Linked DNA regions of Homo sapiens: region 1 is linked to region 2. The links come from fine-mapping of genetic effects on gene expression. A gene starts in region 2. The other region holds a variant in brackets. All regions are shown on one strand. Distances are between the middles of the regions. Region 1 holds the start of MITD1 (microtubule interacting and trafficking domain containing 1). Region 2 holds the start of TSGA10 (testis specific 10).

The links. PIP is the estimated chance that this variant, and not a neighbour inherited with it, causes the effect.
Region 1: its variant is fine-mapped to the expression of TSGA10 in whole blood (INTERVAL, PIP above 0.99).

The regions. Positions count from the first base shown.
Region 1 is chr2:99,177,814-99,190,011 of GRCh38, forward strand. It overlaps MITD1 (microtubule interacting and trafficking domain containing 1), which reads right to left and starts at 3,245. Exons shown (of 7, transcript NM_138798.3): 1 at 3,018-3,245. The coding sequence starts at 3,168. It overlaps MRPL30 (mitochondrial ribosomal protein L30), which reads left to right and starts at 3,371. Exons shown (of 6, transcript NM_145212.4): 1 at 3,371-3,436; 2 at 8,364-8,441; 3 at 10,364-10,444. The coding sequence starts at 8,391. RefSeq lists enhancers at 2,913-3,052, 3,063-3,292, 3,313-3,362 and a silencer at 3,580-3,752. The variant C/A (reference allele first, on the strand shown) is at 4,905.
Region 2 is chr2:99,149,030-99,161,395 of GRCh38, forward strand. TSGA10 (testis specific 10) reads right to left here and starts at 5,913. Exons shown (of 21, transcript NM_025244.4): 1 at 5,664-5,913. C2orf15 (chromosome 2 open reading frame 15) reads left to right here. Exons shown (of 4, transcript NM_144706.4): 4 at 1,454-2,640. The coding sequence starts at 1,530. The coding sequence ends at 1,805. It overlaps LIPT1 (lipoyltransferase 1), which reads left to right and starts at 5,938. Exons shown (of 2, transcript NM_145199.3): 1 at 5,938-6,022. RefSeq lists enhancers at 5,545-6,166, 5,556-5,755, 5,816-6,045, 6,076-6,275, 6,356-6,435 and 1 more.

The DNA of each region.
Region 1 (12,198 bases), 29 kb after region 2:
TTTTGTACCCTTTGACCAACCTCTCCCCATTCCTCCTACCCACTGCCCTTCCCAGCTTCTGGTAACCACTATTCTACTCTCTACTTCTATGATATTAACTTTTTTAGATTCCACATATGAGTTAGATCATGTGGTATTTGTCTTTCTGTGTCTGGCTTATTTCACTTAACAATTTCCTACAAGTTTGTCCATGTCACAAATGACAGGATTTCATTTTTTATGGCTGAACAGTACTCTACTGTATATATGTGCCATATTTTCTTTATTCATCTGCTGATAGACACTTGGGTTGATTCCCTATCTTAGCTATTATGAATAGTGCTGCAGTAAGCTTGGGAGTACAAATATCTCTTCAACATAATGATTTCATTTCCTTTGGATATATACCCAGTAGTGGGATCAATGGATCATATGGTAGTTCTCTTTTTAATTTTTTGAGGAATCTCCATACTGTTTTCTATAATGGCTATACACACCTCTTATTTTGATTCCAGCAGGAGCTCCTTAATTGGTCTGCTTAACTTCAGTCTCTACAGGTTAATGTCTACTTTACATCCTTGCCATATTCAGTCCTTTATTCAAGAAATATTTATTGAGAACTAACAACATGCCCAGCACTGTTCTAAGTGCTGTGGATACAGCAGTTCGTAAAACAGACAAAATTCTCTTCTATTGTTCAAGTAGGAAGAGAACAATAAAAATAAATTGGCAAAACATGTATATTAGATTGAGGTAAGTGCTATTAAATAAAATAATGAAGGAGGACAGGGAGTGCTGGGATGGGGTTATAATTTTACACTGGAGGTCTGGGAAAGCCTCACAAAGAAGGTGGTATTTGTGTAAAGGCCTGAAATAGGAGAGAGAGTGTGCCATGCAAATAAATATCTGTGAGAAAAGAGCACATTCCTGAAAGAGACAAGCCCTGAAATGCAACTCCAATTATGTTACTCCTTTGTAAAAACCTTAAATGGTTTCTCCTTGCCTGTGGAATAAGTTAAAATCTCCTGGTAGTCAAGGCCATCCTCAATGTGATCCAAGCCCCTATCTACCTTTAAACTTTACTTCTCACTCTTCCTCTTCAGATACATGCTCAACCAAACTACTTATTTCGTAAGACAGCACAGGAATTTGAAGACTCTTAGATGAATTTCTGACTTCTGAAATTATTTTTCCTCCAAAGCCCCAATCAAACTCCACCTCTACCTTTCCACCCTCACATGACCTTTAACTGTTTAAATCCTCATTGCGTTTATCTATAGATATCTCTCTCCTGGCACTTATTCCCTGTATTAGCGCTATTTGCATTTTGGTCTTAACCCATCTATGTGACATCATTGTCTCTGTAACCTCTACGGGATCAGTGAAGCACCCTAGAGCAGAACTGTGATTCTCCTGCTTCAGATTCCTAGTGCAGCCAAAACTTGAGCAGTGTTCCACCTGACCAACACAGTACACCATCTCTCTTTTGGGATTCAGTATACCAGAGTCGTTGGGGCCTTGGGCTCCGACTGTGACTCTACCACCTCCTAGTGGCAGAACTTGAAAGCGAACAATACTTTTTATGCTGTAAAACGAGAATACCATCAACTCCTACTTGATAGGGCAATTGGTACGGATGAAACGAGATCATGCTTTTAATGTTTTCTGCAATGCCTGGCACTCAGCACTGAAACGTGATATCTATGCTTATTGCTGTTGTCACTGTCATCATTATCATCAAATAATGCCCCAGGCAAGGTAGAGTTTACAGTTATTTTTTCTTTTTTTTGAGACGGAGTCTTGTTCTATTGGCAGACTGGAGTGCAGTGGCGCGATCTCGGCTCACTGCAACCTCCGCCTCCCGGATTCAAGCAATTCTCCTGCCTCAGCCTCCCAAGTGGCTGGGACTACAGGTGCGTGCCACCATGCCCGGCTAATTTTTGTATTTTCAGTAGAGACGGGGTTTCACCATGTTGGCCAGGATGGTCTCGATCTCTTGACCTCATGATCCACCTGCCTCGGCCTCCCAAAAAAGTGCTGGGATTACAGGAGTGAGCCACCGCGCCCGGCCGGTAGAGTTTGTAGTTCTGACCAAAGCACCAAACCATAAAGGGCTCCCCTCTGCTGCCCCAAAGCTTCTGTAACACTTTAATTATAAGAAGCTTAAACTAGAAAGAACAGAGGGAGCTTAGTCCAGACCGGGAGTGTCGGGGGTTGGGGAGCAGGAGCTGATCTTATCAATTTAATACATAAATATTGAGTGTCTACTGTGAGCCAGGGTTGTGCTGGGTGTTAAGGAATATTTGGGTATTTCTCAACATTGAATAATACGAAAAGTCTCACTTGTCTCCTCCACAACCCTGCGCATTTCTCACACCGAACCTCATCCGTTTAAGAAAAACTTTTCTTCTTCTACCGCTACATAATTTTACTTTGGCTTGCTTTAAATGCAAATGTTTAAACAGAAAATTAAAAATAATCGTATAATAAACACCCTTATTACCCATCACCGAAATTTTTAAAATTAGCATTTTTGCTCAAATAGAGCTTCGATTTTTAAGAAATTTTTGCTTAAGGAAAATTAACTAAAGACATCATAGCATCTCTTTCTAAAACACTTTGGTCTGCATCTCTAAAAATTAAGGAAAGTTTTGGAAAAAAAATCATATTGCCTAAGAAAATAATTTTAATGCCCCCCAATCTATATTCAAACTTTTCTAATAGATCCAAAAATGTCTTTTAAAGTTCGTACAAACCCAGGTCCTATCAAAGCTTATATATTACATTGCGTTATATCTTATATCTCTTAAGTCTTTTAAAATCTAGACTAGTAGCCTCCCCACCTTTTCTAGGTAACATCAATCTATTAAAGATCTAAAAGAAAGCGGCCCAGTTGTCCTATAGAATATCCCACCTTCTGTATTTAACTGCTTCTTCGTGGTGTGGAAAAATCATTTTTAACTCTTTCACTTCACCCCAGACACAGCAGGAACCAGCTCCTTTTCCTCAGGTCCTCCCCGCCTTGGCTCATTGCTCACCTTTCAGAACCTGCAGGAGCAGATCAATCCCCTCTTGGTAACACACCAGAGCCTGCGGATACCGCGACTCCGAATCTAGTTCTACTGCCCGCTTTAGCACAGTGGCTGCAGCTGTGCTCTGCGGGTCCTGCCTCAGCCCGGACTTCGCCATAATTCTGGAAGTTCTCCTCCGCCTCAACCCAGGATGAAGTTGAGCGGGTCTGCTGCGCTTCCGGGAAGTGGTCATGTGATACCCAGGCGCCTGCGCTCTCTTTCTAGGGACTTTCCTGAGTGGGAGGGATTTCGCCGGAACAAAAATGCCTCAGTTTGGAGGTCGCGCTCACTGCGACGGCAGGCTTTGAGTGTAGCACTTGGTAGTTCTTCCTCTGCTCTGCTTCCCTTCGGAGGAAAATTTCAGGCTGAAGGTTTAGCGGGTGCCGGTGAGTGGGGAATGAGTGGCGGAGAGTGCGGCATTCTTCGCAAGGTGTATCCGGGAACCCTCTGCAGATCCTAATTGATTTTCCCTATTGCGTACTGAATTGGCCGGTTACGGCAACCTAAATGGGTCTGCCCCTGATCCCGTCACATTGGCTCCCGTAAGGCCATTGGCCTGCAGGATCCCCCCGTTTCCCAATTTGCAGGATCCAGGGCCACGCGGCTTTTTGTGCCCAGACTCTTGGAGCTCAAGAACGGAGCCGCCGAGGCTGGACAGCTTGGGAAAGGGAACCCAAGCAGCATTTTCTGTGCTGCTGCTTTATTCATAACTTAGGGTTGCCACTGGGTATTAAGGTTGCTTTTTTTTTTTTTTAATGAAGACAGAAAATTGCCTTTATCTTTGTATTGCTTCATTTTATAATGCAAACATCCAAGAGTTGGCAGTTAGAATATTTGCCATTTTATTAAAACTGTGATTTGTTACCATTTTGATCGAGACCTACCAAAAGCTGTTTGTTCTGCCCTTTTTGCCAAGAGGCAGTAATGAGGGCTGCCTACTGCTTGTTAGGCACTAGGAGTTCAGAGAAGAGACACGCTTCCAGCTTTCAGAGATCTCTGGTATCTCTGCAAGAGTGATTCCATGTTTTGCATTTCAGAAGTGTTTTTCCCCCTTTAATAATTGTATACATTGTCGGTTTAGAAAAAGAAATCGATTTTTAACATTCCTGTTGCATGCATGCTCATTGTAAAAAGACAAAAGAACTATCGGTCGCTGGGGGGGAGAAGGGGGAGGAAAAACGCCTTTTTTCATACCCCCAGGGGTATGTTAACGTTTTTCTGACAACCTTCCAGAGTTTTTCTGTGATTACACACGTTCACAGACATTTAAAAAAATAGAAATGGGATCATACTTCTCCTGTGATGCCTGATATTTTCCTGTTTTACAGAAGACAGCGTAATTGTTTCAGGGTCCAGGAGTTACGTGCCTAATTATTAACAGTAACTTTTACTTTATTAAAACGTATTCCTTGCCGGGCGTGGTGGCTCACGCCTGTAATCTCAGCACTTTCGGAGGCCGAGGCGGGAGGATCACGAGGTCAGGAGATCGAGACCATCCTGGCTAACACGGTGAAACCCCGTCTCTACTAAAAATACAAAAAATTAGCCGGGCGTCCGGGCGGGCGCCTGTAGTCCCAGCTACTGGGGAGGCCGAGGCAGGAGAATGGCGTGAACCCGGGAGGCGGAGCTTGCAGTGAACCCAGATCGTGCCACTGCACTCCAGCCTGGGCGACAGAGCGAGACTCCGTCTCAAAAAAATAAATAAGATAAAATAAACGTATTCTTTGAGTCAAACGTGGTGACACACACCTAGCTCCAATTACTGGGAAAATTGAGGATTGCTTGAGGCTGAGTTCAATACCAGAAACATAGCGAGACTCTGTCTCTAAAAACTTGTAACTTTTGACTATCACA[C/A]CTTCAGAAGTCTGTAAATATTTAAACTTCAGTTATTCTGCAAAAATATATTATATGTCTGCTATAGGGCAGATACCGCTTTACACAGATGTTTGGGATACTTCTATGAATATAACAGACCCAAAACAACAAAATCTAAAAACCCTTTTCCTATGGAATTAGCGTGCTATTGAATGTACATGCACTAAACAACAAAACCTAACAGATAATTAAGTTACGTTAGAAGATAAGCACGATAGAAAGCAGTGAAGAGGAATTGGGAGTGTTGACAGTTGGGGTATGGGTGAAAATGTTAAATGATGTGATCTGGGTTGACCTCATTGAAAAGGTGAGATTTGACCCAAAAATTGAAAAAGATAAGGAAATTAGCCATGTAAATATCAGGATCATTCCAGGAGAGGGAATGGTCAGTCAAAGGGAGCATGCCTGCTTGACTAGTTCTAGATCAAACAAGGGGGGCAGCATGTCTGGTGATTGAGCAAGAGAGTAATTGGAGATGGAGTCCTGGAGGTGGGGAAGGTTGGTAGTGCTGTACTACAAAGACATGAGAGGGTGAGGGTTAAGAATTAGAGTTGGGGGTGGTGGCCCATGCTTGTAACCCCAGCACTTTGGGAGCCCAGGCGGGCGGATCACCTGAGGTCAGGAGTTCAAGAGCAGCCTAGCCAACATGGTGAAACCCCGTCTCCACTAAAAATACAAAAATTAGCTGGACGTGGTGGCAGGTGCCTCTGATCCCAGCTACTCAGCAGGCTGAGGCAGGATAATCGGTTGAACCCAGGAGGCGGAGGTTGCAGTGAGCCAAGATTGGGCCACTGCACTCCAGCCTGGGTGACAAAGCGAGACTCTGTCTCAAAAAAAAAAAAAAAATTGATTTTCACTGTGATCAAAATGGACAAGCATTGGAGGTTTTAATTTTTTCATAAATAAACTTTATTTTTGAATAGTTTTAGATTTTCAAAGAAGTTGTGAAGATGGTATGGAGTTTCTGTATATGCTACACTGTTTCCCCCTTTCATGTTTGGTATACCTGTGTACAGTTGATGAACCAATATTGATACGTTATTAAAGTCCATACTTTATTTAGATTTACTTAGTTTTTGCCAAATGTCCTTTTGCTATTCCAGGATCCCATCCAGGATACCACATTACATTTAATGGTCATGACTTCTTCCTTAGGCTCCTCTTAACTGTGACAGTTTCTCAGACTTTCCTTGTTTTTGATATCATTGACAGTTTTGAGGCAGTTAGGTGTTTGGGAAGATACTGGAAGAGAGTACCTACATAAATTATTTGGAATTCTTCTGAATGGGATATTTGTTCTTTCTCATTAACTTATTCACCTATTTATATTAGTATGAATTTAGGGTTATTTATTTATTTATTTTGGTTTGGATTATAAGCCAGTAATACTTTGTTACTTATTTTGTTGCTGAAATTGTTCCAGCTTTGGGTACAGTTGACTGCAGTGTCACTTTGACATACCCCATCGTTATGTTTTTTCCAGTAGTTCCTTTCTAGCATTACAAAGTGCTCCAGACATAATCAGCCATTTCTCAAAGGAGCACTGGTTCCTTTTATTAAAGAATGCAGCCAAGATCTGGGCACTGGGTGTGCTCCTTGCCACTGAGTGCTAGTGCTTTAAGTCCTCTCAGCTAACAGAGCTAGCCCATGTATATATGCATATCTGTAATTACTTCTATATCCCTCAATAGCTATATTAAGCTAAACATGAGTTCCATTTCCAATCTAGTATATAAGGATCATTGTAGCCTTCCCCTCTTGCTTATATGTAACCTCCCACTTCAACAGTGAGAATCCTGGCTCTCTGGAAGATTTTTGAGCAGAGTGACATGATCTAAGATTTAATGAGATGATTTATTGCTGATATACAAAAAAGATATTAGGGGAATTGGAATGGAAGCAGAAGTCCAGTTAGGATTTTGTTGAGATCTAAGTGATCAGAAAGATTTTTTAAAGTGTGAAGCTAAGTATGTTGGATTAAGTACCTAACCTTGATACGAGGAAGTCTGGTAAAATAATTTAGCATTAGATAGGTTCAGTTGCTGAGGAATGTTTCTGAGGTCTGGCTGTCTTCAGGAGATGTCTTGCGTTGATTCTCACAGTTCCGTTGCTTTATCCACATCACAGGAAAGACTTGCAGAACTTGAATGAGCTAGAATCTGCGGGACACTGAATTACAACACTTAGCCTATTTTAGTGTGTTAGAGCAGAGGTCTCCAAACCCCAGGCCTTAGACCCAGACCATTTGCTGGCCCATTAGGAACCAGATGGCACAGCAGGAGGTGAGCTGTGGTTGAGTGAGCATTACCACCTGAGCTCCACCACCTGTCAGAGCAGTCCAACATTAGATTCTCATAGGAGCGTGAACGCTACTGTGAACTGTGCATGCAAGGGATCTAGATTGCATGCTCCTTATAAGAATCTAATGCCTGATGATCTGAGGTGAACAGTTTCATCCGGAAACCTTCCCTTCCACCCCTCCCTATCTGTGGAAAAATTGTCTTCCATGAAACTGGTCCAGTGTCAGAAAGGTTGGGGACTGCAGTTTTAAGAGTATTCTTATTAGCTTTGTAGTAATTTAATAATAATAAAAGCTACTATTTATTGAGGGCTTCCCACATGCCAGGTACTGTTTTAGGTGCTTTGTAGAATAACTCATTTGCAAGACAGGTATTTTCTTTCTTTTCTGGGGGAAAAATTGTAACGCACGAATTAAGTAACCTGTCCGAGATATACATGTAGTTCATGAACTTAATCTTTCTGCTATCAGTATAAGTCAGTATAGTAGGCTACAGTTGTTTTGTGTGTAATTAAATAAATATGACCTTTTTAGGTTATAGAAGCAATGCGTGTGCATTGAGAATAGTTTAAAAAGTACAAACAAGCAAAAAAAATTCTACTTTTTAACAGAAAGGTGTTATGATTTAGTGAAAATGCACTTGCCTAGGAATTAGGAGAATGGGGTTCCAGACCACAAACTTTATTGATAGCTGGATGCACTTGGATAAGTTATTGAACTTTCTGGAATTCATGATCCTCATTCATAAAGTAAGGATGTGGGCAGTCAGTTCTAATTATAGGAGTTGGAATTTCTTCAGTCCCTTCTAGCTCTTTAATTTTCTGTGATTCTATGGCAAAGCATTCTTTATCTGCCTTCATTGTTGAAGAAGACACTTTAAATGATAGTAATTTTGTGGAATCAATCTAGGACTGACTCATTTGATGAAAGTGGGATGTGGCTAATGTGTATAATTACTACCTGTGGTTGAATAAAACATTTATAAATTAATTCGTGCCCTTATTATATTAAAATAACCAATAATTTTACTGTTAAGTTTACAATTAATTTGCTGCTTAGTTTTTTAATACTAGAGAAGGGGAAACCTGTTCATTTCCAAGACATAGTTGACTGATGGGTCTACTTCCTACTTCCCACAGCCTCTAAAGAGAGCAATCACTACACTTATGGCTGGGATTTTGCGCTTAGTAGTTCAATGGCCCCCAGGCAGACTACAGGTAAGTGTTTCTTTTCAAGAATTTGTCTTTTCTACCCCTTATGAATTTTTTTTTTAATCATTACAAGGCAAGCTAAGTTCTTTTTTTTATTTTTTTGAGACGAAGTCTCTCTCTGTCACCCAGGCTGGAGTGCAGTGGCACAATCTGGGCTCACTGTAGTCTCTGCCTCCCTGATTCAAGCAATTCTCCTGCCTCAGCCTCCTGAGTAGCTGGGACTACAGGTGTCTGCCACTATGCCTGGCTAATTTTTGTATTTTTCATATAGTCGGGGGTTTCACCATATTGGCCAGGCTGGTCTCCAACTCCTGACCTTGTGATCCACCTGCCCCGGCCACCCAAAATTAAGTTATTTCACCAGTTCCTTTTCGAAATGGTTTAGATATTGAGAGTTAATCTTGTTTATGTATGGTTTTTCTGCTGTTTTATCCCTAAAGATCTAGAATCAAAAAAGATCTTTTTCTGGAAAACATGCCAATAAAAAATGGCTGTCATTGATTCCCCTTGGTCTGTCTTAATCTTAAAGTTTTAGGTTGTTTTTCCCCTTAGATTATGGAAGGAGTGCATTTTCAATAATAAAATATTAGAAAAATATAGAAAATCAGAAGGAAGAGAAATAATCTGTAAGAGACCCTCAGTGTTAGTATTTTCATGTGTCTCCTTCTAGGCTTGCTTTTAGAAAGTGCAGTGGTGCTGCCTAATCTGCTCATAAGGGCCAGAGCCTAGATGAGCCTATTGACCTGCTCCTGGCTGCAGAGGACAACAATGTAAGGGGCTTTGTATATATTACCTTAACCTCAGATTAATCCTGTGAGGTCAATATGAGTTCCTTTTTAGAGCTGAGGAAACTGACCCTCTGAGAGAGTAAGTGTCTCATGTCTCACAGCTGGTAGGCAGCAGAACTCAGCCCAGTGCCTGTCTTCTAGTGGTTTATGCCATCTCTGCAATGCAGGAAATGCTGGGAGGGAATGATGGGAATGACTGTTGCCCATTCCCACAGCAGTATCCTGGTATGAAAGGTTGGCAGTGAATCCTTTTTCTTCAGCAGCCTGAGAGAAATGGGATTGGAGGAATGTAGAGCAGGAACAAGAGGTAGGAACTAGGAGTGATGACATTGTTAGAACTAGGAGGGAAACTAGAAACTCATTTTGGATTTCTTTTGTATTGTCTTGTTAAATGTGAGTTATTGCACATTGTCTAGAGCAAGAGTTGATAAACTATGGCCTTTAGGCCAAATTCAGCCTCCCACCTATTTTTGTAAATAACAGTTTTATTGAAAAATATCCACACCCGGCTGGGCGCGGTGGCTCACGCTTGTAATCCCAGCACGTTGGGAGGCCAAGGTGGACGGATCACGAGGTCAGGAGATCGAGACCATCCTGGCTAACACGGTGAAACCCTATCTCTACTAAAAATACAAAAAAAAATTAGCTGGACGTGGTGGTGGGCGCCTGTAGTCCCAGCTATTCAGAAGGCTGAGGCAAGAGAATGGCGTGAACCCAGGAGGCAGAGGTTGCAGTGAGCCGAGATTGCGCCAGTGCAGTCCAGCCTGGGTGACAGAGCGAGACTCCGTCTCAAAAAAAAAAAAAGAAAAGTTTGCATATTGTCTGACTGCTTTTACCCTGTGATGGCCAAGCTGAGTTTTGGCAATGGAGACTACATAGCTCTAGAGCTGGAAATGTTTACTATCTGGTCCTTTACAGAAAACGGTTACCAATCCGTGGTCTAAAAGTATATTTATATGCTTTTAGCTTTATATTATGTTAGTGCTTAGATGGGATGCGTTCACTCAGCTAGGGAGCTAAGATATACCTTTAATAATTATAGGGTAGGTTGGAACAGACTTCTGTTACCTAAAGATTGGTGGGTATGGATTTCTCTACTGACAGAATTCTAAAAAACAAATGATTTATATCATATTTTAGACTGTGACAAAAGGTGTGGAGTCTCTTATTTGTACAGATTGGATTCGTCACAAATTCACCAGATCAAGAATTCCAGAAAAAGTAAGAACAAAGTTTGATTTTTTTAATGTTAGTGTTGTTTTAAAAAATGTTTTAAGTGGTACCCGTTTTTGTAATATTGGAAGATTTTATGTTAAATTATATGTGGATGTAGGTGATGGTACAGAGTTTAAAGCATAGTGGGATTTATGTGAATGGTGATCATAAAAATAAAACTGTTCTGTCACTTGTGTCACTGGCCTTCACAGTAATGGGTTTTTATTATTTCAGTCTACTTATTCCTGCTTGTGGTTTGTACATGTGTGTTGGTATCACCATTGTCCTGAGAAAGCAGTGGGTCTTCCTACTCAGGCTCTCACTGTGTCACTCTTCATTTTCACTTTCCGTATCGATCATTGTTACTTTGGATCTTTCAGCTTTTTCTATTTCATTTCTGTGTACCTATCATTCTTTTAGATAATATTGACTAAGCCCGCCATTGATTTTTGTTTAAAATTTTTTTTTAAAGAGAGTTTTGCTTTGTTGCCCAGGCTGGAGTGCAGTGGTGCAATCTCATCTCACTGCAACCTCCGTCTCCCGGGTTCAAACAGTTTTTGTGCCTCAGCCTCCAGAGTATCTGGGACCACAGGCCCGTGCCACCACACCCGGCTAATTTTTGTATTTTTAGTAGAGATGGGGTTTCATCATGTTGCCCAGGCTGGTCTTGCACTACTGATCTCAAGTGATCCACCCGCCTTGGCCTCCCAAAGTGCTGGGATTACAGGCGCCTGGCCTGTTTTTATTTGTTTTTTAATTAATAGTCTTTATTTCTTAAAGCAGTTTTAGGTTTGCAGAAACATTGATTGGGAAGTATGGAGAGTTCCTATGTGCTCCCTCCGCCCAGCATATACAGTGTCCCCCACAACTGATGAACCAACGGGACACAGTATTATTAACTAAATACCATAGTTTACACTAGTGTTCAGTCTTCATGTTGTGAAGTTCTATGGGTTTTGACAAATGCATAATGTCATGTATCCACTATTACAGTATTATACAGAATAGTTTCACTGCCCTAAGTATCACCTGTGGTTCACCTATTTATCCTTCCCAACTCCTAACCCCTGGCAAGCACTGATCTTTTTATTATCTCCATAGTTTTGCCTTTTCTAGAATGTAATATAGCTGAAATCATATGGTATGTAGCCCTTTCAAACTGGCTTCTTTCTCTTAGCAATATACCTGTAAGGTTCCTCCATGTCTTTTTGTGGCTTGCTTGCTTATTTTTTATTGCTGAATAATATCCCATTGCATAGACATACACAGTTTATGTGTGCATTCATCTATGGAAAAACATCTTGGTTGCTTCTAGTTTTGGACAGTAATGAACAAAGCTGCTATAAACATTCATGTATAGATTTTTGTGTGGACATAAATTTCCAACTCATGAGTTAAATACCTGGAGCATAATTGCTGGATTGTATGGTAAAGACTACATTTAGCTTTGTAAAGCCTGGGTTTTTTGTTTATTTGTTTTGGGTGGGGGGTTCCTAATATTTTTTATTGTGGTAAAATACACATATAACATTTACCATCTTAACCACTTTTAAGTGTGCTATTCAATGGCATTAAGTACATTGACACTGTTGTGCAACTATTACAACCATCCATCTCCAGAACTCTTTTCATCTTGCAAAACTGAAACTCTATATCCACTAAATAATAACTGCCAACCTAGGCAACATAAGGAGACCCAGTCTCTACCAAAAAAAAAAAAAAAATTAGATGGGTGTTGTGGTACACACCTGTAGTCCTAG
Region 2 (12,366 bases):
GCCTGGTGGCGGGCACCTGTAATCCCAGCTACTCAGGAGGCTGAGGCAGGAAAATCACTTTAACCTGCCGGGTGGAGGTCCAGTGAGCCGAGATCGCACCACTTCACTCCAGCCTGGGTGAAAGGGTGAAACTCCATCTCAAAAAAAAAAAAAAAATGGGTGAGGGATTTCGATCGAAGCTGTGGAATCTGCTCCAGATCTCAGGTTGCTACTATAGCATCTTGGGTAGATCACTCTTCTCCAGTAAGCCCTGGGCTTTCTCAAACCTTTTCTGTACAGGAAGCCTGTCCCTTCTGCCATCCTGGTCAACTCTGCCTACCAAATTCCTGCCCATCTTTGAAAGCGAAACCCTAACCTAGGCTCCCCTCCTTTGGGAAACTTCCCAAGGCCTCCCTCCATGCTACATGATCATCTTTTTTTTTTTTTTTTTTAAGACGGAGTCTCGCTCTGTCGCCCAGGCTGGAGTGCAGTGGCGCGATCTCGGCTCACTGCAACCTCAGCCTCCCGGGTTCACACCATTCTTCTGCCTCAGCCTCCCGAGTAGCTGGGACTACAGGTGCCCGCCACCACGCCCGGCTAATTCTTGGTATTTTTAATACAGATGGGGTTTCACCATATTAGCCAGGATGGTCTCGATCTCCTGACCTCGTGATCCACCCACCTCAGCCTCCCAAAGTGCTGGGATTACAGGTGTGAGCCACTGCGCTCGGCCGATCATCTCTTTTTACAGACTAGACATCCTTAATCACAAGTATCTTTTTTTTTTTTTTTTTTTTTTTTAAGACAGAGTCTCGCTCTTGTCGCCCAGGCTGGAGTGCAGTGGTGCAATATTGGCTCACTGCAACCTCCGTCTTCCAGGTTCAAGCTATTCTCTTGCCTCAGCCTCCTGAATAGCTGGGATTTCAGGTGCATGCCACCACACCCAGCTAATTTTTGTATTTTTAGCAGAGATGGGGTTTCACCATGTTGGCCAGGCTGGTCTCTCAATCCTAACCTTTGGTGATCCACCCGCCTCGGCCCCCAAAGTGCTGGGATTACAGGCGTGGGCCACCGCACCCAGCCAATCACAAGTATCTTTATAGGACATCTTTATTTTTTACAGAAAATAAAGTACTAGCAGAGTACTTGGCCTTCAGTCGTTATTTCTTTAGCCCATTAGTAATGAATAAAGAGGTTTCGCTAGCAAGAATGAAAGAAAGGACTAAGAGAAGCTCTACTATTTTCTGAAAGGTGATAAAACATACAATCAGATAAATTTCCTTTTAAAAAGACTTTCAAATAAATCTTTAGAACCTGCAAACCCTCCCACAAAGAAAATGTAAACACTGAAAGGTAGGAGGCAATTTTACTTTATATTTCTAGTATCACCACAGCTTTTCATTCAAACAAACATTGCCATGAAGTTAGGGAAATTCCTGCTGCATTCACTTGTTACTTTTTTTTTTTTTTTCAGTAATCAAGTTGAAGAAACACTTCCACTACTTAAAAAGGTACCTGCAAATTACTTTCACATTTGTTCAGCTATCCTAATGGGATTTTCACTTAGTAAATCTGCTACTCAGGTATCTGCTATACATATGGATTCAAAAGTGGATGATCACTTAATACGAGGGACTGAAAAAAGCAGGTTGGAACCAGCGACTCAGTTATTTCAAAACACCAAGAAAATAAGATTAGAAGACACAAATCAAGAAAACTTTACAAGGATTGAAGGGACTGGCACAGGATCTCTTTCTGGGAAAGCCTTGGGTTCAGTGGTATATGTCAAAGAAAGTGATGGACTAGAAATGACAGATGTGGAATGAAGCAATTTGTACGTATTACCAAAGAAACCAAAAACTGCCTTTGACTAAGGGGGGTGTTGAAAGAGAACTTAACCTTATTAGGAAACCCTGACAAAATGATGGAAGACTATTGCCTTATTTTGCACTATTTGTGAATCATCTTACACTGCATTTTTTTATGATGCTTATTCAAAAGGCAGTTGCTTTAGGGTGAAAAAGCCTTCCAAGATTCAAAGCAGATTTCTCTGGTATTATATTATATCCTTCTTAAAAACCAGAGTTTTTAAGTAACAGTATTTGAATGGCATCAAAACATTTTCATTTTAATGTATTTCTTTAACAAGTGGTTAAAAAAAGTGTCCAAGCAGCCGGGCGCAGTGGCTCACACCTGTAATCCCAGCACTTTGGGAGGCCAAGGCGGGTCAATCACCTGAGGTCAGGAGTTCGCAACCAGCCTGGCCAATATGGTGAGACCCCATCTCTACTAAAAATGCAAAAAGTTAGCCAGGCATGGTGGTGGGCACCTGTGATCCCAGCTACCTGGGAGGCTGAGGAAGGAGAATCGCTTGAACCCTGGAGGCGGAGGCTGCACTGAGCTGAGGTCATGCCATTGTACTCCAGCCTGGGCAACAAGAGCAAAACTCCGTCTCAAAAAAAAAAAAAAAAAAAAAAAAGTCCAAGCAATGTGACATCCGTATTTCACAATATTTCTGGTGTATCAGTTTTGTATGTTACATTTCCATTTTGGGATTCTGCTTTATGATACTTTACTTTCTTACATTTTGCATTTTTGTTCTGTAAAAGATCACTGCCAATAAACTGCAAAAGACCAATAAATTGCATATCTTCAGAAGGATTTCACATTTTAAATCGTGCCTTTAAAACTGCTTTTTCCCCCCACATAGAATCCATTTTAGAGTTAGAAAAGTGTTCTTTCCAAGTGTTAATAGTTTGTCTTGCAGATGGTACCATTTTATGTCACCAATATTTAATATGAGAAAAAACAACCTGTTTAAAAACCTTGTTTTGTATATCAGTTATGAAAATATCTGGTAGTTGGAAATCTCTTTAATATTCATTTTAAAAGAGGAAAGGGCATCTTTTCCGGGGGGAAGCTATATTTTATTAATCAGAAAAATACTAAACAAATGTGTTTGTAGGGAATATTGAGAGTGAAAAACAATTGTTGAATGGGACATAAGCCAAAAAGACAATGCTTTTTATTATTTACAGAACGTAATTCTTTAGAAGAGAAAAAAAATACATAAATCATTCATTTGTTCACCTAGCCTGGCACTGTGCTTGGTGCTGGAGATACAGTAGTGAATAAAATAGCCAGTGCCTTGTAGAGTTTTGTGCCTGTCTACTAGGAAAGACAGGAGATTATACAGTAATTATATAAGATGCAAATTGTGATATGCCATGAAGAAACGTATAGCATTCAGAGGGACATAACACAACACAAGACATACCACATAAAACTGATTTTTTTTAAGATGGTCTCACTCTGTTGCCCAGGCTGGAGTGCAGTGGAGCGATCATAGCTCAGTGCAGTGTCGAATTCCTGTTCTTAAGCGATCTTCCTGCCTCAGCCTCCTAGTAGCTAGGATTACAGGCATGTGCCACCATACCCAGCATGTTTTTGTATTTTTTTAGAGACAGAGTCTTACAATGTTACCCAGACTGGTCTCAAACTCCTGGCCTCAGGTGATCCTCCCACTGGGCCATAAACTTGATTTTAACGTGGGAAATGGGAAAGCGTATCTCAGGACATTTTTGAAAGCAAGTTGATTAAGAAAGTAAAGAAACAGAATGGCTACTCCATAGAGCAGCCTCTGAGGACATTTATAGCTTTTGCAGTGACATGGTTGTCTAAGTGAATGATGGTGATGGTCATAAAAGTGGAGAGAAGGGGATAGAGTCCAGGTGAAGTCTGACAGGATGTAGTCATGGTTTGGAAGCGGAAAGTGAGGAAGAAGAAAGGGCTTCTGGCAAAAAAGGCTTTAGCCTTTATGCATGCAGGATCCCTGGGGGGAAAGAGTGAGTTCAGGAGCATGGCTTTTAGACTTACCAGGTTTACAAGGCAGTTGTATCTATGGAACTAAAAAATATAAATTTTGAAGTTGTATACAGAAATGGTACTTAGAGCCATAGAATGAATGAAATTGCTTAAGGAAAATGTAGTGTGAGATAAAGATCTGAGGAACTCCAACATTTAGGGCTGACTAGATCAGGGTAGCTGGCAAAGGGGACTGCGGAGTTGGCAGTGAGGCTGGAGGAAAACCTGGCAAAAGGGACTGAGGAGTTGACAGGGTAATGTCAAAGTTGTCCACAGGAATCTCCAGGTTGAGGTAGTCAAATGAACACTTAGATGAATACTGAAAAGTCCAGTGGATCTAGCAATATGAATGTCACCCGTGACCTTAGCAAAAGCACTTTTGCTGGAATAATGGGGAAAAGCCATTTTGGAGTACGTTGAAACAATGAATGGGAAGTGAGAAAGTAGATACTGGATGTATAGCAGTTTTTCCAAGAAGCTTGGCTCAGAAGGGTAGCAGACAGGATGACAAGTGGAAAGAGAAATGAGGTCACTGGAGGATTGTTAAAGAGTACAGCATGTTTGAGTGTCACTTGAAAGGTTCCAGTGGAGAAGCTGAAGAAGTAGGTAAAGGTAAGAATAACCAAGGGACAGAAGTCCTGGAGCAGGGAGGAGGGAATGGGATTCTTTAAAACCTCTTCATCAAGAAACTAGGAAAAAAAACCAAAGTTGTACCATCTCAGATTTCAGAGAAAGGGAATTTAGAAGGAAGTAATATAAGCAAAGAGCAACAATATTCTGTGACTGTTTTTAATAATAACTAGGAAAATTCCTAGTGCAGTTAACTCTGAACAAAATTCATTCCCACCTGCATAATACAAGATAGACTTACTCAGAGTGACCTTGGTAAAAGGTGTGATAATAAAGAAAGGAGGTGTCATTATGTCTTCATTGTAGCTTTATATGAAGCCCTGGTCATTTACCGTATCAGCATCAGCAAACTGAACACTGAATGATTCTTACTCCAAGAGGCAAGTCTTAGTGGTTTCTATTTTAACTGAAGGAGAGATTAATTTCTGTGCAAGGTTGAAAAAGGTGACCACAAATTCTTTGGGCTTCTTTCATCAAGAGGTGAAGTCCATTACCCCACGCCTTAACTCTGGGCTGGCTTTGTTGTTGTTTTGGCCAATAGAATATGGCTGAGGCGCTGCTTCCAAGATTAGGCCTGAATTGAGATGCCCTAGCAGCCAGGCAGCACCTGCCAGAGCATGAATAAGGCTATCTTGGACCGCCCAGCGTAGCCAACCTGTGCTGAATGAAGCCACATGAATATGCCCAGGAGAAACTAGCAGAAGAATCACCCACCTTGCCCACGTTAGAGATATAAACCACTATTTGAGGCAGTTTGTTATGCAGCAAAACTTAGCCGAAACTATTACCTTGCTACCTTGACTGCTGGTGTAATTTCCCATCTCATGGAGTCACAGAGTTTTCTTGCCAACTGCAGTGAGTTGGCAAATGGGAATGATCAGTAGCCTCAGTGTGTTTTCTGATCCACTCCATCCTGTATTATCATCTGCGAATACCGTTTTTCCTTTAAATGCAATGTGTCTTTCAAAGCTGACTTGAATTTCTCACCTTTCGAGTTACCTGCCATTTGGACTCACTTATTTGGAGGAGATATGTAAAGACCCAGCGTAATACCTGTATGCTCAATAAAAAGTATTTGCTGGTACTCCTTCCTGCCCGTCGTGTGACCTGACTGCTCTGGGCTTCTGGGGGCTCCCCCTAAACTCGCTCCACGAAATGACCCCTCCAACCTGGCACGCCCGCTCTCCTACCTTCGCCCAGGGCTGGCCGTTATCTCTGTGCTGTCACGCGGGGAAGTCCCATCTGAACTGGGGCCTTATGACCTTCGGTACTTTTATTCGAACGTAGCCTGCGTCCCTGCCTGGAACCTGGTTCCCGCCCTGAAGGACCCTTACTTAGCACTCCTGCGGGCTGCCGGGACCCCACGGCTCCGCAGGCGGAGAGACTAGGCGCGATCCCTGCGCGCCCCTCCTTCTCTTGCGCTTCAGGGGGCCGGCCCTCAGGGGGCGGGGCAGCATCGCGCGCAAGGCCTGCCGGTTGCTCGGGGTCGTATGACGCACTTTTCCAGCTCGAGCCCTCACGAGGCCGTGGGTACGACCGGAAGCCGCAGGTGGGTGAAGCGGAAACGCTTCAAACCGGGATGTTGCGGGCCGTAGCGCGTGGGCGGCCGTGGGGTCTTGGGCGCGCGCGGTGTTTCTGGCGGTGGGTCAGGACTTGCGGGTCGCCTCCGCCGGTGTTGAAGCCTCTTGTGTGCACACTTTCTCCTCAGCACTTGGGACGACCTAATTTCACTGTTAGGAACGGTTGATCCCGAACACAGGAGGGAGGGTAAATATCGTAAAACATGTTGGACGCTAGCTGTGTGCACGCCCCCTGGGAGCCAAAAGGGCGAAGTAAAACATGCACACGACCGTAATGAGATTCTGAGTAAGTTGTATATCATTAGAGAGGGGACAAAATAATAGGGTCTTGGCGAGGTCTTATGAAGAAGCTGCGCCTGCCTAGAAAGATAGATGGGATTGTGCTGTTTTCGCTTTCAGTTCAGTGATGGGGAGCCGTGTTTGGCAGTGCAGAGGTAGCGAAGTGTCCCAAGAACATGGAAGGTAAGGAAGTCTTCCGAGGAAAAACTTCAAAAAATTAGTCATTAAAGGGTGAGAGTAGAAAGATTCAAAGTGATTTTGAAGGAACAAAATTTAACCAGAACTTCAAAGGCTTGACACTATCCCAACGACTGTGAAATATCCTGAAATACCGTGCATTACTCAGTCGGGGTCTGATCCGCTACTGGAGCATAGAATAAAAAAAGAGGGGCACACCTGTGCCAGATGAATCCACGCCTTCTCTAGGGGAGAGAGGGTATCCCGGCTTAAGAGCAGGGGCTCTCCTGAGTTAAGGAAGTGTCTTCCCCAGAGCCCATTCCGTCAGACGTTCATATCATGTAACTCAGTCCTTTTCTGATTATGTATTCACCAAGCAAACTTAAGAGTTGGCTTGTCACCAGACCTACAGTGAATAATTGCACAGGCTCATCTGAATATCTGATAGATGGTCTATAGTTCTCTTTGTAAATCAATAAGCTGGCAGTCAGGGATTTTTGGACATCCCTTTGTTTTCACTTTTTCTCACTCTGTGTGATTTTTTCTTATCTTTCGGGGTTCAACTGAAATGTCACATCCTCACTGAGGTCTGTTTATTGGTTTACGTGTTCAGGTGCTTAGAACAGCTTCTTGCATCTTTTCTCACATGATGCCTTTTTAATGAGGCTTAGCCTAACAACCCTATTTAAAATTGCAATGTAAGTTTTCTCACATACACAGTTACAATCCTCCCTTTATCAGCTCTACATTTTTTTTTAATAGACTGAATCTCGCTCTGTTGCCCAGCCCATCTCGGCCCACTGAAACCTCCACCTCCCGGGTTCAAGCGATTCTCCTGCCTCAGCCTCCCGAGTAGCTGAGATTACAGGCGCCTGCCACCACGCCCAGGTAATTTTTGTATTTTTGGTAGAGACGGGGTTTCACCATGTTGGCCAGGCTGGTCTCAAACTCCTGACCTCAGGTGATCTGTCCACCTTGGCCTCCCAAAGTGCTGGGATTACAGGTGTGAACCACCTCGCCCGGCCATCTACTTTTTTTAATAGCCCTCCTTATCACCTTTATTCATTTGACTCACTGATGATTCCCAAGTGCTAAGAACAATGTCTGTCATGTAATTGATGAAAACTTTGTTGAATTAATACCTTTGTTGTGTTTTATTCACACTGTATATACAATACCTGGATGAAGAGAGATATTTTTAGCACTATTAAAATACATGCATTGGCTCAATACATGAATTGGATCAATTCTGGAACCCTAACAAGATCACATTTTTGACCAAAGTCAATATCTTGGACTATAGTTAATTTATCAAGGTAAATGCCACTTTGATGTGTCTTGGTTAGGAATCTTTGTTCACTTGAGGGAATACATGGTATATGATAGGAACAGTAAGCACAGAATAGAGATGGGAAAGGGAGAACCCTGTCATAACAGTTAACATTTCATATTTGCCAAACATGAATGGCTTATGCATATTAACACATTTAATTCTCTCAACCATTTTATGACGTCTGAGGCCACTGAAGCAGCTAGAGGTTAAACCACTTCCCTAAAGTCATTAGTAAGTGGCAGAGCCAGGATTAAAAATTTAAGTCCTTAACTACTTTGCCATCCTGCCACACTCTGCACATGCAGACAAGAGTAAGAGCCTTAATCTTGGGAAAAGATATTTCACAAGATCTTTGACAATTTCCATATCCACAGACACCATCCAGCTTATTAGTGACCACCACTCCTATTTGTTACTTTCTCCTTTAAGGCTGCCCCTACCTGAACTCTGGATCCCAGTACCATCACTTTCTCAAGGACCTCCCTTCTCCAGTGTTGCCCTCTCTTGACTCCCCTACCAGCATCTAAACATGCTCAGATCTATTGCATCTTAAGTCCTCTCCTAACTCCACATTCCTTTCTACCTACTGCCCTAGCTTTTCCACTTCACAACTAGAATACCCTCATTGTATCCACCTTGGGCCTCCTATTTACTCAGTACATCTGGTTCTTACCAAGATCACTGATAACCTTCTTGATACTGTTTAATAGATCCTTTTCAACCCTCATCTTATTTGCTCAATCTTTGGCATTTGGCACTGTTGACCATCTTGTCTCCTTGAAGCTTCCATAATAGCATATTTAAAATTTTTCTGCCTTTTCTTCTATCCTCAGCTTCCTTTGGGAGCTCTCCCTCCTTCTTCTGTATGTCCGTTAAATGTTGCTGCTCTTCAGTCTTATGTCGCAGGCCCTTAAATCTTCTCACTGAACCACCTTCCTGTGGCCTCAGTTACCATCCATTGAGCTCTGTGCCGTTGGCCGCTAGTTCAACAGTCAAAATGAACCAATTATCTTAACCCCATACTTCCTCTTCCTATAAAATCTGTCCTAGGAAATTTCACCTCTTTGCCAGGCCAGAAATCAGGGCATAATATTAATAAAATAGTTAGCACATATTGTGTACTTTCTTCAGTGCCAGGCACTCTTCTAACCACTTTATATGTATTAGCTCATCAGACTCAGCCTGATAATATGAGATGAGTCCTGTCATTATCCACATATTAGATAACAAATCTGAGACATAGAAAAGTAATCTGCCTTAGGTCATTCAACTGATAAAGGATAGAGTTGGGATTTGAATGAGGGCACTCTGGTTTGAGCTTGTAATCATTATATCATAAAGGACATGATGCTTGACTTCTCTTTCTCTCACCCTAATTCAACCTATTGCCAAGTATTGTACATTCTCCATGCTTAAAATCTCTAGGCGGTGTCCCTGAAGTATAAATCCAAAGCCTTCATGCCTGTAATCCGAGTGCTTTAGGAGGCCAAGGCAGGAGGACTGCTTGAGCCCAGGAGTTTGAGACCAGCCTGGACAACAAAGTGAGATTCATCTCTACAAAAAAAAAAAAAAAAAAAAAATAGCCAGGCGTGGTGGCACATGCTGGCTAAAGGGGGAGGATTGCTTGAGCCCAGGAGGTCGGGGCTGCAGTGAGCCGTGATCACACCACTGCACTCCATCCTGGGCAATAAAGTTCAAGCATTTCACTTGGATTTAAGGTTCTTTATAATCTAACATCTACTTCTCTTGCCTTCTTATTAACTCCCCATTCTTGTATTCCTAATAACCAGCCAGTAGAATTAAATTATTTGCATGGGTCCTATCTCCTTTTCCACTAAGCTGTTGCACATTGTTAGAATTCTTTTCTTTATCCCTTTTATGTCTCAGCTTCAATGTCACATCCACTAATTAGAGCATTAGATGGCGCTCTACTGTACTTAACACCTATCACAGCATTTAGGACACTGTATTTTAATTATTGCCTTACTTGTTTTTTAGTATCTCCCACTAGATTGTGGAGGTACTTGTTTCTTGAAGGCAAGGACAGGTTCACCTTCTTTTCTTTTTTTTTCTTTTAGACGGAGTCTTGCTCTGTCGCCCAGGCTGGAGTGTAGTGGCACGATCTCGGCTCACTGCAAGCTCCGCCTCCCGGGTTCACACCACTCTTCTGCCTCAGCCTCCAGAGCTGCTGGGACTACAGGCGCCCGCCACCATGCCCGGCTAATTTTTTGTATTTTTAGTAGAGACGGGGTTTCACTGTGTTAGCCAGGATGGTCTCAATCTCCTGACCTCGTGATCCGCCTGCCTCGGCCTCCCAGAGCTGCTGGTACTACAGGCACCTGCCACCATGCCCGGCTAATTTTTTGTATTTTTAGTAGAGACGGGGTTTCACTGTGTTAGCCAGGATGGTCTCGATCTCCTGACCTCGTGATCCGCCTGCCTCGGCCTCCCAGAGTCCTGGGATTACAGGCATGAGCCACTGCGCCCGGCCAGTTCACCTTCTTAATGTCACTCATATCCATCCCCTTCTCTCTCTCTCTCTCTCCTACCGTACTTTAGGCCCTCATTATCTCTAGCATGGACAACTGCCTTAGTCCATTAACTGTTCCCCCTGTCCCTAGTCCATCCTTTATTTAATCCATACTCAACCCTGCAGAGGCAGATTCGTATAACAGCTGAGTTAACACTTCCTGCTTAACACTTCAGTGGATCTTAGCTGCCTTTTAAAAAGTCCAAATATTTTGGTTCATTACATGAATTTATCTCCTCCCATTTTCTATCTCCTTATTACCTTGTACCTAGTAGGAACTCCATAAATACTTGTTGAATGAATATGGTACTGTGTCAAAGTCAGTCAAGCAGAACCAAGAACAAAGAGGTTAACCAAAGTAATGCAGTCTCGGTTGCGAGGCTTCCTAGGACAGTATAGCCATAGGCTTAAGTGGAAGTCGAAGACTAGTAGTGTAACTCTTTCTCTTAGGAGGGAATCCCCAAACATACCTTACTATTAGATGACTCTTTGTCTTTGCATATGCCTGGAATATGCTCCTCGACCTGGCAAACTTATCAGATTTGGTGACTCAGTTCAAGTATTCCTTCCTCTATTAAACCTCTCCACACCTTTCTAGACAGAATGTAAACTGATTCAACTTTTTGTAGGTTAGTTTATAAACTACAACAAGAGTGATGAAAATATGAAGACTCTTTAATCTAGAATTGTACTTCTAAGATATTACTTAACTAAATGATTTGGGGCCAGGTGTAGTGGCCCATGCCTATAATCCCAGCACTTTGGGAGGCTGAGGCAGGAGGATCACTGAAGCCCAGGAGTTCAAGATCAACCTAGGCAACGTAGGGAGACCCCCATCTCTACAAAAAATTTAAAAATTAGCCAGGCATGGTGGCGCATACCTGTAGTCCCAGCTGCTTCAGAGGCTGAGATGTGGAGATTGCTTGAGCCCAGGAGGTCGAGGCTGCAGTGAGACAATTACAGAGTGATACCCTGTCTTAAAAATAAAAAATAAAAAAGCCTAGCTACCTAGTTATGAACTTTCTTTATTTAGAACCAAACTCTTAACCTCAAGTTATACACTTTAATAATCCATTCTATTCCCAGTTCTTCAACCTGAAGGAAAATTATATTCTAAGAAATAGAATTGGAATAGAATGATTTAAGACCATAAGTAATCAAAATACTTCATTTTCATAGCTAGTATTTTCAACCTTTTGCTGCCTAATATTTCATTAGCAATGGTAACATGAATAATGTGGAAAGCATCCAAACATAGTGAATTTATTCTTAGCCTTTGTATATAAACCTGCATACTCCCAGTTGCCTCTCTCTCTGACCTCAAGGGTTCATCCTAAGTTAATATTGATCTAAATAAAAGTTATGCTGCCAGTAAATCATATATCCCAAAGTCAAACAGGAAATTATTTTTAAAGTGTTATAAAGACATAATGAAAGCTTTCCACGGAAATGTTCATGAACACATCGTTGATAACCAGAAAAACTAGAAGCCACCTAAAATTACAGACTAAGAGACTGAGTAAACTTGTTAACAATGGAATATTAAACAGTCATTAAAGCTGATGCAAAATAGATTTAATGGGCCAACGCGGTGGCTCATGCCTGTAATCCCAGCACTTTGGGAGGCTGAGGCGGGCAGATCACCTGAGGTCAGGAGTTCCAAGACCAGCATGGCCAACATGGTGAAACCCCATGCCTACTAAAAATACAAAATTTAGCCACACGTGGTGGCAGGCGTCTGTTATCCCAGTGAGGTAGGAGAATCGCCTGAACCTGGGAGGCGGAGGTTGCGGTGAGCCAAGATCACGCCACAGCATTCCAGCCTGGGTGACAGGGCGAGACTCCGTCTCAAAAAAAAAAAAAAAAAAAAAAAAAAAAAAAAAAAAAAAAATATATATATATATATATATATATATATATATATATATATATATATAGATTGAATGTCGAATGAAATAATAGTATGGGGAGGGAAATGTGTGTGCGTATACATG